Regions from separate parts of the Homo sapiens genome. Here region 1 is linked to region 2. The links come from fine-mapping of genetic effects on gene expression. A gene starts in region 2. The other region holds a variant in brackets. All regions are shown on one strand. Distances are between the middles of the regions. Region 1 overlaps ARHGAP19 (Rho GTPase activating protein 19). Region 2 holds the start of SLIT1 (slit guidance ligand 1).

The links. PIP is the estimated chance that this variant, and not a neighbour inherited with it, causes the effect. A credible set is the group of variants that fine-mapping cannot tell apart.
Region 1: its variant is the best candidate, but not a certain one, in a credible set for the expression of SLIT1 in whole blood (GTEx, PIP 0.51).

What each region holds. Positions count from the first base shown.
Region 1 is chr10:97,221,404-97,225,716 of GRCh38, forward strand. ARHGAP19 (Rho GTPase activating protein 19) reads right to left here. Exons shown (of 12, transcript NM_032900.6): 12 at 776-4,313. All of the region lies in intron 11 of ARHGAP19-SLIT1 (ARHGAP19-SLIT1 readthrough (NMD candidate)), which reads right to left. The region is part of intron 2 of LOC105378447 (a long non-coding RNA gene); the gene reads left to right. Among named protein-coding and RNA genes, the nearest start is that of SLIT1, 38 kb to the left of the region's middle. The variant G/A (reference allele first, on the strand shown) is at 2,795.
Region 2 is chr10:97,184,340-97,188,719 of GRCh38, forward strand. SLIT1 (slit guidance ligand 1) reads right to left here and starts at 1,620. Exons shown (of 37, transcript NM_003061.3): 1 at 1,139-1,620. The coding sequence starts at 1,335. The region is part of intron 11 of ARHGAP19-SLIT1 (ARHGAP19-SLIT1 readthrough (NMD candidate)); the gene reads right to left. RefSeq lists enhancers at 1,464-1,964, 1,965-2,465.

The DNA of each region.
Region 1 (4,313 bases), 37 kb after region 2:
AAGATGCTGTCTCGAAAAAAAAAAAAAAATAGCTGCTATAGACTAAATGTTTGTATTCCCACAAATTAACTTTGAAACCTAATCTCCAATGTGATGATATTAGGAGGTAGGGTCTTTGGTAGGAGGGGTCTTTGGGAGTGTCTTTGGCAGGGCCCCCATGAATAGGATTAGTGCTCCTCTAAAAGAGGCCCCAGAGAGATCCCTTGTCCCTTCCACCATGTGAGGTTACAGTGAAGACGGCTGTCTGTGAACCAGGGAGTGCACCCTCAGCAGACACCCAATCTGCTGGCACCATGCTCTTGGACTCCCCAGACTGCAGAACTGTAAGAAGCACATTTTTGATGTTGAGAAGCCACCTAGTCTATGGTGTTCTGTTAAAGCAGCCCAAGCCCACCAAGACAGCAGCAGGAACATTTCAACATGAGCTGTCTAAACACACCTTCCTGCCTCAGATGAAAACTTCATCTAGGTTTTCCTGTTATTGTAACCATCACTCCTTGTTTTTAAATGAAGAAATAAAAATTATGTGAGAAACTGAAATCTATGTGAAGCATTCTAGACTCAGCCATGGGAAATTAGGAAGCTCAGGATCCCAGAGGCTCCAAATCATACTTCTTATCAGCCAAAAGCCCCGCTCCTCCTGAACCCACCCACCCACCTAAAAACAAGCCAAAGAGGAGCCTTTCTAGAGGCTTCACTTTCCTCAGAACAAGAGAAAAACTCTCTCTTCAACATCAACAGTCAAAATGTGAATAGACCAGTCAAATCCTCTGGATATGAAACAAAACAATTTTAATTTCAGAATATTACAAGAATATAAAAGAAAGACAATGCATAGGATCGTTTCTTTACAATTACATATACATAGTCAAATAAGAATGAAAACTTTAACCAAAACACTTAAGAAACCTTGTTTCTCTTGTTGAGCAAGCTCAGGGATAGGACAAAGGCAACCCTTGCTCTGCAGAAAGAACCCTGGGGTGAGGGAATATTTCCCCCAACAGGTTCTATCTGTCCCCAGACATGGCCAGGGGAGGGCTCCATGGCTCTTTAGCACAGGCTGTGGCCTCACACACTCCAGTCTCCATGGTAACCCAAGCACTCAGGCTATTATGTCCCACACCTCCTCGCTGGCCTGCTTCTGTCAACTCTACGCTGGTAGAAGATCTCGGCATTAGCTGTCTGGGGAAGCTAACTTCCTACAGTGGGTTTTAGTTGAGTTAATCACCACTGGTGTAAAACGCTTGTGCATCTTAGGAACCCAAATCTTCCCCAAATTCTAGACAATCCCACAAAATGCTAGTATCTAGGTTTAGATCTAGGTCCTGTCTTCCGTTTGAAGCCTTCAGGGTAAAGGAGGGCAGAGATAAGGCTCTCTCCTGGGGAAAGGAGTTCTACACAAAAATGACCTCAGAATGGGGGCCATTAGCCTCAAGCATCTGTGTGAGGCCTTGTAGGAAAGGAGACAGAGTCTAGAGACATCTATTCCTAAAAATCACCTGGTTGCATGGCCAGTCACTGTGGGGCACGTTCCCAGTGACCACAGGTTCTCCTAGACGGCAGTATTTTCAACTGCATGCTAACACAGGCTGCTGTGAGGGAAACTGAACAGAAACGTTCCTACTCAGGAGGAGAGAATGGCTCTGTTCTGACACTCTAGGATCGACTGCTTCCTTACAGGTCAACAGAACAGATACCTCCGGAGCACCCAGGTGTCACTGCAGTCAACAGCCCTCCACTAGCCCATTTCCCAAGGGTGTTCCCTTGTCCTTCCTGAATGACTCTGGAAGGACATTCTGGGTAAAGAGCTTTCCTTTGCGGAGGATCAACTGTAGTTTTGGTTACGATTCATTACCTGCTCCTTTTTTTACGGTTCGTTACCTGCTCCTGTTTTGGCCCTCAGGTACAGTCAGTATCTCCTGATGCTCTTTCACTACTACAGCAGGGTTTTTCACACCAGATTCATTGGTCCCAATGCAAAAGTCTATCATTGTAAAAGGTGAGAAATTCCAACGCCTATGGTTCTCACTAATTTAGTCAGTGGGGTTCACACAGTACAGTCTGGACCAGGAAGGTGGCCTGCAGTTTAATATGTGTATCCCTCTGGCACAAACACAAGGCCCCAAATTGACACCACATCAAAGCCCATCACAGGTGACCCCAGAAAGAAATGAAGTTGTAAAAGCCACAAGAAGAGGCACTTCCAGAGAGATTGTTCCAACATGAAAAACAAACACAATGAAATAGATTCAAAAAAAATCTTATAGATTAAAAAACTCTGTTAAATACTGGCTCAAAAACAATACCTGCCCACCAAATCAGAAGGGAGACAGCAGCCTTCTGTGGCAAATGATAAAAGGGGTTTTCTCTGTGTTTTCCGTAAGATTCCACTGGATTAGAATAGTTACATATTACAAGGTAGAAGGTTATGCTGCTTACTCCTCAAATTTGGATTCTAAGTCGATCACAGCTTCTATTAAGAAAAATGACCTATAAAACCCCTAAAGCAAGGGAAAACATATTCAATAAATAAACAAAACACACATAAACCACCCAAGGAGACCAGCTATATAAAGGCATGTGCATGTGATAAATATCTCTCTCATGATCCTCACCCCAGAACACAACCTTTGCTTATGATTCCATTCACCCAAAGAGCATCTACATCCGTCTAAATCTCAGCTACTTCCCTTAAATAGAATCAAAAACTAACACGATGACAGGAGCTATCAGGTCACCACTCTGCTCCCTCTACCTGATGCCAGCCCTGTTTAACAGACCATAGCACCACTTC[G/A]GGATGAAGCACGTCTAAACAAATAAAGGAAAGAAGGAAGAGTTAAGGAAGAATACCATTTCAATTTGGTGATACCCAAAGGGTTTTCTGTTTGAATTAACTGATATCTGGTGTAAGGGATTTCATTTTCTTAATAAGAAAAAAAAAGTCAAATATTTAATAGAAACCTACGCAAACGAATTTGCTAATATGTGTTTTTACAAATGACATAAAACTGCTCTAGAGAAAGGGGCTTCTAAGCAGTTTTGTTTTCCTAACCATCTATTGTTCACACTGCATTAAGCTGGAAGACCAAATTTTACATTTTTCTCCACTATTGCTGTTACAGCAGCAAAAGCAGCAGAAAGGCTGGCAGAGGGGGCTGCCAGCTGGGCACAAGGCCAAGCTCTGCTCCCCCAGAGTCATCTTTCATTTCAGCAATGGTGCAGCATATTCAACAGTTTAGAAATAGGTCAGCAAACCACATTTTGTGGGGCAACTGCTTCCCCATAGTGGCCTGACTCGGCTCCAACCCACAGGGTGAGAAGGGTTGTACAGCTCCACAGAGCCAGGCACAAACCTGAGCATTCCCCCCTGCTACATGCTGCTCTCTGGGCAGACACCAGTTCATACTAGGTCAAAGCCATGCCACTGCTCTATCCAACACAAGTGAACACACCAAATCCAAAAGCCAGAAGCTCTGGCCCCATCTCCAAATTACCACCTGTGTCCCTTCTGACAAAGAGAGGGCGGAACAGTAACACTCCTTGAACATTGGTGACAAGCCACAGCTGCTTCCAAATAAGAACATTCTCTCCTTTAAATCCTGTCAGCCCTGCAGAGGTTGCTGCTTGCTTCTTCTTTCTGATCCTAACTTCCTCTCAGGAGACGGTCTAGCCTGCACCCTCAGAGGGTGCAATGTAATCCCACCCATAAAGAGTCATCCTGGGACATAAAGGCAGCCAGCCCCCTCCTAGGCACACTCCAGAGCTTCCCCCACATACAAATATTTTAGCAAACTTCTCTTATGCTGTCAGTGACTTTCCTTGAGTCACAGTGATTTGGTTCAGAAGTATTACGTTGGCACCAGAGATGTTTTAGTCAAGAGGAAATTGAATGAAGATAACAAGTTCAGCAAAACACAATTATTTTCACATCACTGAGGAAAGGGAAAGAGAGAGAGAGATGGACAAGGGAGGGAGAAATGGAAGGAAGGAAAAGAGTTTAATAATTAAGATTTGTTAAAATACTGTATCATTCTGAATTCTCCTTTTTCAATACTGCAGGTCAAATACTCTGATGTCACACCCAAGAAATAATAAAAAATGTCCAGAAAAGCTATAAATTCTTTGGACACAAATTAGGTATTGAGGAATACAGCCTCATAAGATAAAGAGTTTTCCCAAAGCTCAAAGTGAAAAAGAGGGAAAGATATCTAGCTTAGAGCCCAACCAAAAACATGGCTTTTAAAACAAAGAAATAAACAAACAAAAACAACCAAATACCCAATACTATCAAAACAGAGAAAAACCCAAAATAT
Region 2 (4,380 bases):
GGAGCCAGCAGCCTTCTCCAAAGCCCTGTTCAAAAATCTCCTGGTGTAGTCACCTCTGCGAGCAGTACAAAGGCCCTGCATGTGACCAAAATCTACACACACACAGCCCATTACGGGGACTCTCATGGCCTCACGCTATTAAGGTGGCCCCTTAATACTAGGAATTCACACAGAAACACATTCTGCAGGAGAGTCACAGAAAACAAAGTATAAAGGTCTGTAAATACACACACTCAAACACACCCAAACACACACACACACATTCTACTAGCTTACTGGGTCTAGAAAAGAAAAGGATCAAGTTTCCTCAAGAATTCACAAGTGAGACAGAACAGGGGAAGAGAAATGCTATTTTTTTATTACTTGTCATGGTCAATATCTTTAACCTTGGGCCCCCCTCTCCAAGCTCCTGACTTCTTGGCATTATCCACCGGGTTCTCCATCCAAGACACACCTGCCCCTTTTCGGGTGCTGAATGTTACATACCCCAAGCCCCATACCCAAAGCCCTCAGGTCCCATTGTCTGCCTGTGTTGGGGATGGCTGGGTGTGGAGGGAGGCGGGTGAGTAGGGGACCAACGCGTGGCACCTGCAGGGGAAGAATTCTCAAGGCTCTGGGGCAAACAATGGAGAAGAAGGGGCAGACCAGAAACTTCGCCTCCATCCCACCCTGCTGCCCTTCGTCAGGAGCAAGCTCTGGGAGCGGGAATCTGCGCAGCTGGCTCAGAACGCGGCCGTAGCCCCATGTGCCCAAAAGGAGACATTGTGCTTGGCGAGTGTGGGAAGTGTCCCTCCTGGGTGCAAGGAAGGCTTTCTGACACCAGTTCGCAGGCACCCTGGAGGAATAAAGCGCTGGCGCAGTGAGGAGGGCCTGAGGGTGCGGAGTGCAGGGTGCAGGGTGCAGGTGTGAGGACGGAAGCTGACAACCCCGCCGAGGGCCCTTTGAATCCCAGGGATGGGGAAACCACGGCGCTCCTGGCTCCTGGCTCGGGAAAGACCCCGGCAGGCACTGACCCGTCTGTGGGCTGCGGAGCCCGGACGGGCCCCAATGGTCCTGCCCCCACCCCCAAGTCCGGAATTGCGTCTGGGTGGGAGGGCAACCTCGGAGCCAGGGAGCCAGGGGCGGGGACCATACTCACAGGCGCTCGGTGTTCCGAGGTATATTCTTGGGAATGGCCTGCAGCCCCGTGCCGTGGCAGTCCACCGTGGTTCCGGTGCAGGTGCAGAGGGCGGGGCACGCCGAGGCACCCAGGCGCCACGCGGCTGCCCACAGCAGCAGCCAGAGCTCCGGCCGGACCGGCCCCGCCGAGGACCCCCACCCGGGAGTCAGCGCCATGGTGCCCTCACAGCGTCCCGCTCGCGAGCCAGACGGCAGCAGCCGCTGACCATCCCCGTCCGGGGCCGCCTCCAGGTGCAGTCCCGGGGCAGAGCCACCGAAGAGCCCGCGGGCTTGCGCGCGGCGCCCCTGCGGGCTGGGAGGCACCTTGCTCCTCCAAGCGACGGCGCCTGTGCGCGGACGGAGGGAGGGCGCCTTGGGCGGAGGGGGCTCGGCTCCTCTGCCGTTTCGCCGCCTGCGTCTCCCTCTCCCTCCCTCCAGCTCCCAACTGACTGCTGCGAGGAGGAAAATGGGCAGGCCCCGCGCGCGCACGCACCCTGCGCACACACCACACACACACACACGATCACACACACACCCGCGCGCTCGCTCCCACCCGGCAGTCATCCATCAATCGAAAAGCACACATCCAGGGCCAGGCTCCTCCCCGCCCTCCCCCGCCGCAGCCCCCCTCTCCCGACGACCACTCAGCGGCTGCAAGCCGCCTACAGTTTCAAAGGTGGAACCTCCGAGGCGCCGTCAGCGGGCACGGGGCTGCGGGGGATGGGAGAAGAGGGAAGGGGGTGTGACTCGACCCGCCAAGTCCTGGCTGTACACACACACACACACACACACACACACACACACACACACACACGGCGAGGATGCGCACATTTAGACGCACGCACCCCGGCACCCGCGGCCCCAGCTGCTAGTCCAGGGTGGGAGGGAGATCTTATTTTGCCGCTTGGACGCCTTCCCGGGGAGTCAGACCCGTTTCCCCCCATCCCCCGACGGCAGCAGCGGCCTCTCGGCCCCACCCGACTCGCTGTGTCAATTCTTGGTTAAGGGAAACCCTGTGCCTGTGCCCCAGGTAGCATCCTCAAGCCACCAACCTTACTTAGCCTGGACTTTGAGGATGGAGCTTTGTCGGGGGGGAGGGTCCACGAAAGCGCTAGGCGGAGTACAGTCTCCTTCCTACCTCAATGCACCCACTTCTCAGAGGGGAACAAGCTAGCCGCATGCCCAGGATGAGAATGGCTCTGATTGGAACACTTGCTCAGCAGGGCGTATTTGTACCATACAGTTACACGGGCTTCTTCCCCCGTTGTAGAAGAGAGGGACAGACATTAAGGGGACTTGGAAATCTGGCAAACGTCTTCCTCCACTCACACCAGCGTTCCTCCATTTCTGACAGGTGGAAACAGATGAAAATGAATATTCCATCTTGACATCAAAGGAGACAGAGAGGGCTGGCATAGCGCTGGGCGGCCTGCTTGGGAGAGAACCCCACAGGCCAGCCCCGTCAGACCCAGGCCTCACACCCGGCTGGGTAGGGACCTTCGTCACCGTAAGGCATGTGTGGACGTGGGTGTGAACGGGACATCCAGGTGGGGAGAGAATTCTCCTCAACCCCAGAAAAGACGAAAGATCTCCTCAACGCCAAGGACAGCTGTGGCTCGCTGGGGCAGTGTCCAGCAGTCGGGGCCTTGACGTGAGGCTGCTTGGCAAGAGGACACAGCTGGGTAGCCCGAGAAGCACCTCCCGTCTCAGGAGCGGCCTGGGTCCAGACACAGCATGGACGCATTTGGTGGGGAGAGTGTCGGGCAGGGTGGGGATAGGGGAGGTTGATAGACTCCACAAGGTTGAAGCCTTATCACCCACCAGGTACCCAAGGCTCAGGCGTTTTCTTTGCTTTTCTTTTCCATGTTGATGAGAATTTTGCAGTCTCTCTACTGTCATAGCACAGTATGTTACAATTTAGGTGGCTGATTTTATGGGCTTTTGACAGTTCTTTTAAAGTTTTCACACATCCCTGTCCATGACCTCCATCCGGTAAGTGGGTTCTTGAGCATAAGTTCAGTTTCTCAGGGGGCAGGGCTTTCTCAGGGGTGCCTGTGTGGTGGGATATTAGGGAAGCTTCCCACAAACCAGGCCGGAGTCTGAGAGGGCTGCCCCTGCCCTGCAGCTCACCAGCTCCTGCTCCATGGGGCCCCAGCCCCTCTATCCATGCTCTCCCCGCAGCCTCAGAGTGACATTCCTCCATGCCCGCTGCTTTGTTTATCCCCTCTTAGTACCTGCAGCTGCTTCTCCACACCCCTGCCCACCCCCTGGCATCCTCACTCGCTCACCCAGACACACACCCCAGCACCTGGCACTTAGTAGGCCTGTCACAGACAGCACTCAGGCTGTTGAAGATGTCTCCAGCCTTCTGCTCCAGCAGTAGCTCCCTGGTCCCAGGACCTCGGAGGGCCCCTTGGAAGCCAAGACCCATGTGGAGAAGGGAGAGAGTGTTGATTAGCCAGGCGACATGCCCCTAGGTCCTCAGAGTGACAGAGTGAAGGGGTATGAGGAAGGGTGGGAGTGAGCAGGGGTGCAAGATCAGCCCTGCCTATGGCTCCTGAGAACCAGCCCCTGCCCTAGAAGCTTCCAGACCAGCCTGGACAGTGAATCCCAAGCAGGCCCTGGGCTGAGTTGCTGCTGCCTGGCAAAGCCTGGCTTTTCCTCTGAAGGGAGGGAAGGAAGGAGCCCCCCAGACCCAGGACAAAGACTCCCCCAGCAGCCCATCACAGGGGGCCCTGCCCAAGCAGCGGGCAGCTCCCCAGCTTGGCTCCTGTCCCTGGTTCCTCCACCCCAGAACCTGGCCAGCTCCCCAATTCAGGAGGCGGCTCGCCATGAATGAGCGCAGCTCATTAGCGTGCCCGGCACATTTACTTGTTAAACAACTGCCTGGCTGGCCGCACACCCCCAAGCCCCACTCTGTTTTTTCAATTTCCTCTCCCATGCCCCTCCCTCTCTTGGGTCTCCCTACCCCCTCCCTGCAGCCGGGCCACCTGCTCCCGCTGCACGGGTGGGGAGGAGGCAGGCCTGGCACATTGCTTCTGCCAGGAATACTCCACCAAGCCTGTCCCTGCTCACCTGCCACCAGCAGGGCAACCCCCTGGAAGGGAAATTTGAGGTTGAGTCTCCCCAGCCCAGTGACGTGAGTCCCCTCTGAGTCCTCTCAGCCACATGTGCTGGGAGTTGAGGGCCACTTCCCCCGTGTGACTCAAGAAGAGAGCGTTC